Regions from separate parts of the Homo sapiens genome. Here region 1 is linked to region 2. Evidence: fine-mapped QTL for protein levels in blood plasma. A gene starts in region 2. The other region holds a variant in brackets. All regions are shown on one strand. Distances are from middle to middle.

Region 1 (5,000 bases), 14 kb after region 2:
GTGTGTACAGGGTTGTTGTTTTTTCCCTAAACTGTCCTCTCTCTATTCTAGATCTGATGACATTCCTCTATGTAATTGTAGAAATCACTGCTCTTGGAGAGCCATTTTTGAAGATGGGAGTGTGTCCTATCACAGCCTCAGTGGTGTTGGGTTGGAAAAGGCTGGGAACCCCTGCCTTCCCAGGGCCACATGCCCCTTTACTACAGGGTTTCACATAACTGAAATCAGCTTTCCCATAGTGCTTTTGAGTGTCTGAGGGCAAAGGGTAGTCTGCCCAGGGGCTTCAAAGTGGTGCAAGTTCCCACCGGGCACCAGTCCGTATTTGAAACCCAACAGGGCGATAGGTGTGCTATGTGAATATTTGACGGCACTGTCATGTTGCCCTCTCTCTATATATATCTTTTTTGAGATAGGGTCTCACTCCATCGCCCAGGCTGGAGTGCAGTGGCATGACCATGGCTCACTGCAGCTTTGACTTCCTGGGCTCCACCTCAGCCTCCCAAATAACTAGGATTACAAGCACACACCACCACACCCAGCAAATTTTTAATTTTAATTTTAATTTTAATTTTGTAGAGATGGAGGTCTCCCTATGTTGCCCAGGCTGGTCTTGAACTCCTGGGCTCAAGTGATCCTCTTGTCTTAGCCTCCCAAAGTTCTGGGATTACAGGCATGAGCCATACCCTCTAAATATTAAAAAAAGCATTTATACCTAAACCTTAGATTTCTATAATCTATCTACCTACCAAGTTTCATAGACTTTTTTAAAGAACGAAGGATATTCTCATTGGAATATGTTCTCTGCTGTCTTGCTTTAAGATGCTGTAATTGAATTTAATGTGAATTGATTCATGTTGATTTCAAGCCAGGCTAAAACCAGACAGATTCTTCCAACATAAGATCAGTAGAAGTGCTAAGCGGTCCCACAGAGAACAGAGACTTAACTTTGGTGGATTAAAAAAAAACAATGACTCTCATAAGCATCATATGTAGAGATCTAACTAGTAATTCTACCAGAAAACCAAGAATATAGAGAAAAATGTTGTATTTCTCAATAGTGTGTTTTTGGACAAATTAAGAATTACCTAGTTATAGAGTTTTATAGAGAGCATATTCTTCAGCTTTATTAAATCTTACCAAAGATTAGGATGTCTTTTAGATTAACTACTGTTTTCCTACCACTATCTTATACATGTCAAGTTTTTTTTTTTTTGACGGAATTTTACTCTTTGTTGCCCAGGCCAGAGTGCAATGGTGCGATCTTGGCTCACTGCAACCTCCGCCTCCCGGGTTTAAGTGATTCTCCTGCCTCAACCTCCCAAGTAGCTGGGATTACAGGAATGCACCAACATGCTCGGCTAATTTTGTATTTTTAGTAGAGATGGGGTTTCTCCATATTGATCAGGCTGGTCTCAAACTCCCGACCTCAGGTGATCCGCACACCTTGGCCTCCCAAAGTGCTGGGATTACAGGCATGAGCCACCACGCCCAGCCAAGTTTTAATTATTTTAAAAGAATACCTTGTTATAGTTTAAACATGAACTTTAAAACTGCAGAGCAGGTATTATACAACCTGGCAGAATTTTTCCTGGGACTCTATTAACTTGTGTTTTCCTCACTTATGATTAGTATAAATATTGAATTATGTGGTTTTAGTAGCATAAATAAATGAAGATGTGTTTCATCATATTTATAGCTGAAATTTTGATTAAGAAAAACCTATTTGCTCCTCTGTATCTTTTTCCCTTACCGCTTATCCATTGAACGCTAGGATTCAACACAGGATTCAAACCATATATATGTTCCATCTTGATGGTAGCCTAACTTTAAACAGAATTGTAGTAGGATGATGTGCCCACATACTCATGTTATCTTACCTTTTATAGCTAATTATTTTATGGACCAGAATAACGTGCGCACGCGTGCACGCGTGCA[T/TACACAC]ACACACACACACACACACACACACGCACACACATATTTTGAGATGGGGTTCCCGCTCTGTCACCCAGGGTATAGTGCCTTGGTGCGATCTTGGCTCACTGCAACCTCTGCCTCCCAGGCTCAAGCGATCCGCCTACCTCAGTCTCCTGAGTAGCTGTGACCACAAGCACACACCACCACGCTTGGCTAATTTTTTGTATTTTTGGTAGAGATGGGGTTTCGCCATGTTGCCCAGGCTGGTCTCGAACTCTTGATATCAAGTGATCTGCCCATCTCAGCCTCCCAAAGTGCTGGGATTACAGGCGTGGGCCACCGCACCTGGCCTCAGAATAACCTCAGTTATCATGATGCTTATAATATTTCTAAGCTTATATAAAGTTTGATTATTTTTATACCTTTATGATTATACAATAATAATTTTTGAATACCTACTATGTACCGAGTACTTTACTTGCACACGTTCCAATTCTTCCAACTGCCCTGAGCTGTAGATAATCAAATCTCTCATTTTGCAAGTCAAGAAACTGAGGCTCAAGGAGGTTAGGCAAGTGCTTGTAGCTTGTAAACTGAAAAGCTGAGGTCTGGCTCTAGAGCCCCTAACATACGCTTTCCATACTCTACCACATTGTTGCTAGAAGTTGTGTGATAAAGAAAAAAAAATTACTGAAAAAGTTTTCCTAGCTTTTCTCCTACCCCACAGGCTGTACTTTCTCAGTCATCATTGCCAAGTGTGGTATGTTGGAGGGCCCCAGGGCTCAGCCCCAGATGTTGGGGCTGATACACACAGTATCCTATTCTCTCTACACGTAAGTGCTGGGGACCATATTTCTAGCTTTAGCCTCAGCCTTTTTCCTCAACTCCAGACTCATGTAGCCATTTGCGTACTCTACATCTCCACTCAGTTTTCTGAAGATGTCAAGTTTAACCTATCCAAAACCAAACTCTTAATTCTACCCCAAAACACTCTGACCTTCCTGAGCCCTCCCTATTACAGTAAATGGTATCACTACTCAGCTGGTTGCTCAGGCCCCTTTGGTGTGCTGTGTGACCCATCTGTCTCTCAGACCCTGTATCCAAACCCCCAGCAAATACTTTTGCCACTACCTTCAAAATATATCTGGAATCGGTCCACTTCTCACCACCCCACAGCTGCCAGCCTAGTCCAGGCCATCCTTGTTTCTCGCCCATCCTTCTACAGTAACTACCTACTTTTCTCCCTGCCTAGGTCCTGCCTGTCAGTTGTTTTTCCTCCACCCAACAGCTAGACAATTCTATTAAAAGATAAGTCACAAAAATGAATAAATAAAGATAAGTCACATTATGTCATTCCCCTGCTCTAAACCCTCCAGTGGCTTCCCCTTACACTTAGAACAAAAGCCAAAATCTCATTTATCTAACCCTCAAGACCTTACACGTCCTGACCTTGCCTGCCCTTCCCTGCTCATTCTCCTGCTCCAGTCAGATTAGAGGAGCAGCTTTGTAGCTCCCCAAATCTGCCAAGCATATTGCCATTTGCAGGGGCTTTGCATTTGCTGGACCCTCTGCCAGTTACACACCTGCCGCCTCGTTCACTGGGTTTGCTTCCTCCCTTCATCCACATCTCTGCTCACTAGGCTTTCCCTGACCCACCCTAGGAGAGAACCCTCACCATTCCATCGTACTCCCTTTACTCTGCTTCATTCCTTCTAATAGCACTTATCACTATCTGATGTTCATTTTGATCAGTTTATTATAAACATGTAAGCTCCATGAATACAGGATATTTGTTCATCTCTGTAGCCCCAGTGCTGTGAACAGTGCCAGGCACATAGTATTGAATAAATATTTGCTGAACTAATTAATGAATAATTTCCTAGACATTAGATCTCTTGCTTTCACTCATTCTCTTTTCACTGAATACGTAAATAAACAGTTGGCTCTGTGTGTGTGTGTTTCTTACTGGTTTAAGCCGCTCCTTGCTTATTTAGCCAAAGCTTACATCAGTTTCGTAGCAGTAGAAAATAAGGGAGGCTGGGAGCTACATGATAGACCTTATGAACACAAAGAAGGAAACAGCAGACACTGGGGTCTACTTGAGGGTGGAGGGTGGGAGGAGGGAGATCAGCAGGAAGATAACTGTTGGGTACCTGGGTGATGAAATAATCTGTACAACACACCCCTGTGACATGAGTTTACCTGTGTAACAAACCTTCACATGTACCCCTGAACCCAAAATAAAAGTTAAAAAACTTAACATGATCACGATAGAAAACAGTGTGGAGGTTCCTCAAATGATTCAAAATAGAATGACCATATTCTAGCAATCTCAGTTCTAGGTATATATTCAAAGGAAATAAAATCACTGTTTTGAAGAAAAAAAATAAGGGAGGTAGGGTCCTATTTACCTAACATACACCCTAGTACTCTGATGAAATCAAGATGCGCTAGATGACTTTAAATGCAGAGCATTCGAGTTGGTTTCCCTTGCTTTTCTCTGTAATTGATATGTACTGGGCAAGTCTGGTCAAAAAACAATCACAGAATCTGATACACTGCCTCAGTTTCACCAGTGTAACTGAGAACAAGATTGGGTCTGAGAGGAACAGACCCAAGCAAAGAAGCCTGCACTTTCCCATTTCCACTCTCAGATGCCATCTCGTCTCCATGAGGACTGTCATGTGTGTGCATTTTATTTATTTATTTATTGAGACAGAGTTTCACTCTTGTTGCCCCAGCTGGAGTGCAAAGGCACGATCTCGGCTCACCACAACCTCCGCCTCCTGGGTTCAAGCGATTCTCCTGCCTCAGCTTCCCAAGTAGCTGGGATTACAGGCATGCACTACCACCCCCGGCTAATTTTGTATTTTTAGTAGAGACGGCGTTTCTCCATGTTGGCCAGGCTGGTCTCGAACTCCTGACCTCAGGTGATCCGCTCGCCTCGGCCTCCCAAAGTGCTGGGATTACAGGCTTGAGCCACTGTGCCCGGCCATGGATTCTTTTTATTACACATTCTGCTACATTCTTTTGTATTACAAACCAAGTCATCCGAGTCTCAGGAACCCCACCTGTCCTGCAGTTTGCTATGT
Region 2 (5,000 bases):
TCTCCTGAGTAGCTGGGACCACTGAGTTATTTATTTTTTTCTTGTAGAGATGGGGTCTCGCTGTGTTGCCCAGGTTGGTCTCAGAATCCTGGGCTCAAGCGATTCTTCCGTCTCGGCCTCCCAAAGTGCTGGGATCACAGGAGTTGTTAGCCACCGCACTCGGCTGTAGGCATTCTTATTTAGTGCAAGCGCTCTGAGGAGTAGCAGCTATTATCACCTCCATTTAACAGATGAGGAAATTGAGGTAAGAGCTATTTTTCCTTTAAACCTGTCCAAGGTGTTACATGTGACCAAGTGGGATGTGAACTCTCCAAAGCATTCTTTTTTTAACCATTACGATGAGCTAAGCAAGGGAAAACAGTTTGCAAACTGCTGTTGTAATTATTACCGCTGTAGCTGAGCTCGCGCGTGGGTCACGACCTAAGTGAGGGTGGAGCAGGGGTCACTGGGAGCCCGGCCTATTTCAGCCCGGCCAAACCGCTTGGTGACTTGGAGGCCGGGCCGAGGCCCCGCCCCTCACCTGCTGATCCTACCCTTGGATGGGACAAACAGAGGGCCCTGCTGGGCCGGCCCAGGTGAGGCGAGAGATGGGCGGGGCCTGATGCGTGAGTGGCAGGAGCAGCGCGCGGCCGGGGCGGGGCGTGCGTGCGCAGTGGGCTCCGCCCCCCGGGCCTCTCCGCGGATCCGGGCGGGCCCCAGGCTGCAGGGGCGGTGGCGGCGCTGAGCTGGGCGGGCCGGGGCGGGGCGGCCGGGCGGCCGGGGCGGGGCTACACTCGGGCCCCGCGTCCTGCTCCCATGGCCGCCCCCGGCTCCCCGCGCTGCCCCCTTTACCCCGGGCCGCGCCCCGGGGCCCCGCACTGACGGCCCATGGCGCCGCCAGCCGCCCGCCTCGCCCTGCTCTCCGCCGCGGCGCTCACGCTGGCGGCCCGGCCCGCGCCTAGCCCCGGCCTCGGCCCCGGACCCGGTGAGTGTGAGCGACCCCCCGCCGCCCGCCCTGAGCGGAGCCCACTCGAGGGGCGACAAGGGCCGGCCGGCCTGAGAGCCCCCTCCCTCCCGCTTCAGGACCTTCCGGGCCCCTTCCCCTCGCCCCTAGGCGACGCCCCTCAGGCCGGGATGGTCCCTTCCTGGGACCCGGGCTACCCCCAGGCCCGTCATCGACGCCCCCGGGCCCGGTACTGTCCCCCGGCTGCAGGACCCGGTGCTCCTCAGCGACGCCCCTCAGCCCAGGAGGCCCTCTCCGCCTTGAGTCTTCCAAGACCCTCTGCGACGCCCCCCGGGCTGGGACATCTTCTCTGTCTCGGGATCTGGGACCCGCTGCCCGAGTCCCTCAGCGACCCCAACCAGGCCGGGACGCCCCCTCTCCCCGGTACCTCCTGGGATCCCGTCCCAAGTCCCCAGCGACTTCCCCCGGGCCGGGACGTCCTCTGCTCCCCGGTACCTCCTAGGATCCCGTCCCAAAATCCCCAGCGACTCCCCACGGGCCAGGAGGCCCCCTGCTCCCCGGTACCTCCTGGGATCCCGTCCCCAAGTCCCCAGCGACCCCTCCCGGGCCGGGACGACCCCTGCTCCCCAGTACCTCCTGGGATCCCGCCCCAAGTCCTTCATCGACGCACCTTGCACCGGGACGACTCCCCCGCTACAAGAGGCTATACGCCCCTCTCCGAGACCTCCAGCGACATCCCTCCCCTGGGCCAAGGTCCCCTCCCTGAGCCTCACTGCGACGCCCCCGCGTCCCCCAGTCCTCTCCTCCCGCCTACACCGGTGGAACCCGGCGCCTCCCCGCGCAGAGCAGAGCGGAGGCGGGAGGAGCCGGCGCTCAGCCCCTTTTCCCGAGTCCTCGGCTGCACCCGCTTGGCGGACATTATAACTTCTGCCTCGCGAGGAACGGGATGGACTTGTTCGCCCTGCTAGAGGCAGGTTAGGGTCCTGGGACGACCTTGTACCCAGACGGACGGGACGTGCCCTCTCTCTCCGCTGGGCCGCTTTGAACTTCCCTATGACTCAGGTGATGGCGCAGAAGGGGGAGAGAAAAAAGGAAGCAGTGATGGGAAACTTCTCCCCAACTGAGTTTAGGGTGCTCTTCCTGAGGGTGCAACGCCGAGCTCCGTGTTTTGGGTCAGCCCACACCTTAGACAGGTCACTCACTACCCAGGCCAAGGCCAAGGCCAGGTCTTCCCGAGGTGAGGCCCTGGACCAGGATGAAGCTTGGCTTTTGCTTAACTTCCACACGCAACCTTGTAGCCGAATCCTTTCTAAGTGGAAGAGAAGGCAAGAGGGCGTTGCATTTCTCTGCAGGCTGTTTGGGTGTTGAGCATAGGCCATTTGTGAAAGGGATGGGAAGAGTTTATTACCAGTCTGCAGGAGTAGGAAAACCCGCCTCTGGGTTCTCCACCCAAAGTCACAGACTGATGTTGGAAAGGATGGGATTTTGCTGGTGTAAGAAAACTCAGAGTTGCTTTGTTTACTCATTGGCTTGGATTAGCGAAAAAGCTAGGACTTGGTGTTGTCACTTACTGGGTGACTTTGGGCCATGCCTTCAGCTCTCTGAGCCTCAGTTTCCTCATCTGTAAAGACAGGATAACTTCTTTGCAGAGTGTTGTGAAGATTAAATGATATACTGTAGGTAACATACCCGCATATAGGAGGGAGTCAATAAACATATTTTAATAATACTTTTATAGGGCCTCACAGTTCATCGAGTGCTAGACACCTCATTTACCCTGGGAATGCTAAGAGCTTTCGGTCTGATTCATTTCTGTAAAAGGCTAAGCTTGGCTTTAAATTAGTAGAACTGGGGTCTCCAAGTGTTGTAAACCTGAGGCTCAGTAAGTGGTTTCTGAGTGATCACCGTCTTTTATGGGACTTCTACAGTATGATCACTTCTACTGTTGTGAGGAGTGAGGGACATTCCGAGAGCCAGGATATGTCAACATGACTGTAACCTGGTAACCCCTTAGCTCCACTTTGCTATCTGTGTGGTCAGGGTTTAATGTCCCCTACAAAGAGAGAGGTATGGGTGGAAATAGACTGGTTCCCCTTCTGGAAAGGGCAGAGCAGCAGCTCTGATTTGCATCAAGTGAGCCAACTCTCCTTAAGCTCGTTGGAAGCTAGTCTCTTCCCAGATATCTTTGCTTTTTTAAGGTCAAATGCAGCATCTCTTATCAAGTTTGCACCCCAAATTTTGGTGTACTTTTATTTAGGAGTCTGGGGTAGGGGCAAATAATCGTTGTGAAATAATTTGTGATAAGTGGCCCAAGTTCCCAACTCACTGAGCCTTGCCAGCTTGGTGCCTTACCGTCCTGATAACTCAGTGCTTTGCTTTTTTGACTTTTCCTGTCTAGTTGCAGAAGCAATTTTAGGGAGATACCCCATGGTCTTCACCAACACATCCTGTCTAGATCCTACTCACTAGCTTTTAAAATCCTTCCCAATAAAACACACACACATACACACACACACATACACACACACACTTTACTCTGAGGATATGCCAAACTTGCCATTTTATATTTTTTGATACTGTAATTTTCTCTAAAATTTTGTGGATGGAAAAAATTATTTCAATATTTATATTCTGCACAATTTTGTAATATTTAAATTACTGGTGGTTTGCATTTTTGAATGCTGACTTTATAAAAACAGTTAGCTCATTCCCCATCAATCCTACTTCTAATTACAATGTGTAGCCAACCCCAAATGATCTCCCTTCTTTTCATTCTTCCTCTAAGATTCTCTTCCTTCCTTCACAACTCATAAGAAGGAAAGTAGAAGGTAATGGAATCTAGACTTTCCTTCAAGGAGGAGTGCAACCAGGGCCATGTGGTCGAGAGGTTCTCTGTAGTAGGTCCCATCTGGAATTTATGGAATTTATGGTCTACTCACTTGAGTATTTTACTACCTTTAGGGTCTATTAGGTGCACATCAACAGAGCTTCTCCACTCAGGTTATGTTTGCTGTGAATACCTTTTATAAGTTTATAGACTGATGCTCATTCTCCTCTACCTCCTCATCTGGAATTTGCCCCACTAGCCAGTAGTGTGTTTGCCCTAAAACCTATGAGTTCAGTTAACAGCTAGAGCTTCATACTGTCTACCAATTCTTGGTTCTCTTGGGGACTTCATTAATGCTAATAGAATTACCTGTAAGCGACATGGGGGCTGAAGCAGTGAAGGAGTGAAGGGTGCATACCAGTTACTTGCATACTCTGAGTATTTTAAGAAACACCATTTCGACCTGCTATCAAAGACCTCTGATATTTTTGTGAAAATATACTTTAGTCCCTAGACAAACCATTTAAATCTTTGAGGCCGGGCGCGGTGGCTCACACCTGTAATCCCAGCATTTTGGGAGGTCAAGGCAGACGGATCACCTGAGGTCAGGAGTTCAAGGCCAGCCTGGCCAACATGGTGAAACCCCATCTCTACTAAAAATACAAAAAATTAGCCGGGCATGGTGGCACGTGCCTGTAATCCCAGCTACTTGGGAGGCTAAGGCAGGAGAATCGCTGGAACCCAGGAGGCAGAGGTAGCGGTGAGTTGAGATCACACCATTGCACTCCAGCCTGGGCAATAAGAGCAAAACTCTGTTTCAAAATAAACAAATAAATAAAAAGTATTTGAGATAGGCAATGAGTCCCTTTATAAATCTTAAAGCAAGAAAGCATTCCTTTTAGGCTCACTACTCATAAACAGAAAGTTGATGCACTTCTTGTATATCAATACAGATATTATTGATAAACTCATGGTTTAGCATAGTTAGACCAAAAGCAATAAATGAGTAAGATAAAATATATTGCTTTAAATAGCTTCACAATATACAGATTAGGGATTTTTGGTGATGGGGAATATACCATCCTTAGTTTAGAATTTTTGAGTCTGGAAATGTCAACTGATAATCTAGGTCAGGTGTGGGCAAGCATTTTTTGTAGAGGAAGACAGTAAATAATATGAGATTCATGGGCCTTATACTATCTGTGTTGCAATTATTCAACTCTGTAGGGC

The links. PIP is the posterior inclusion probability: the model's chance that the variant is causal. Sun 2018 read protein levels with aptamers (SomaScan).
Region 1: its variant is fine-mapped to the plasma level of the KREMEN1 protein (Sun 2018, PIP 0.95).

Annotation. Positions count from the first base shown.
Region 1 is chr22:29,086,371-29,091,370 of GRCh38, forward strand. The region is part of intron 1 of KREMEN1 (kringle containing transmembrane protein 1); the gene reads left to right. Among named protein-coding and RNA genes, the nearest start is that of KREMEN1, 16 kb to the left of the region's middle. The variant T/TACACAC (reference allele first, on the strand shown) is at 1,936.
Region 2 is chr22:29,072,264-29,077,263 of GRCh38, forward strand. It overlaps KREMEN1 (kringle containing transmembrane protein 1), which reads left to right and starts at 772. Exons shown (of 9, transcript NM_001039570.3): 1 at 772-964. The coding sequence starts at 868. It also overlaps a transcript of C22orf31 not described here. RefSeq lists a silencer at 461-790.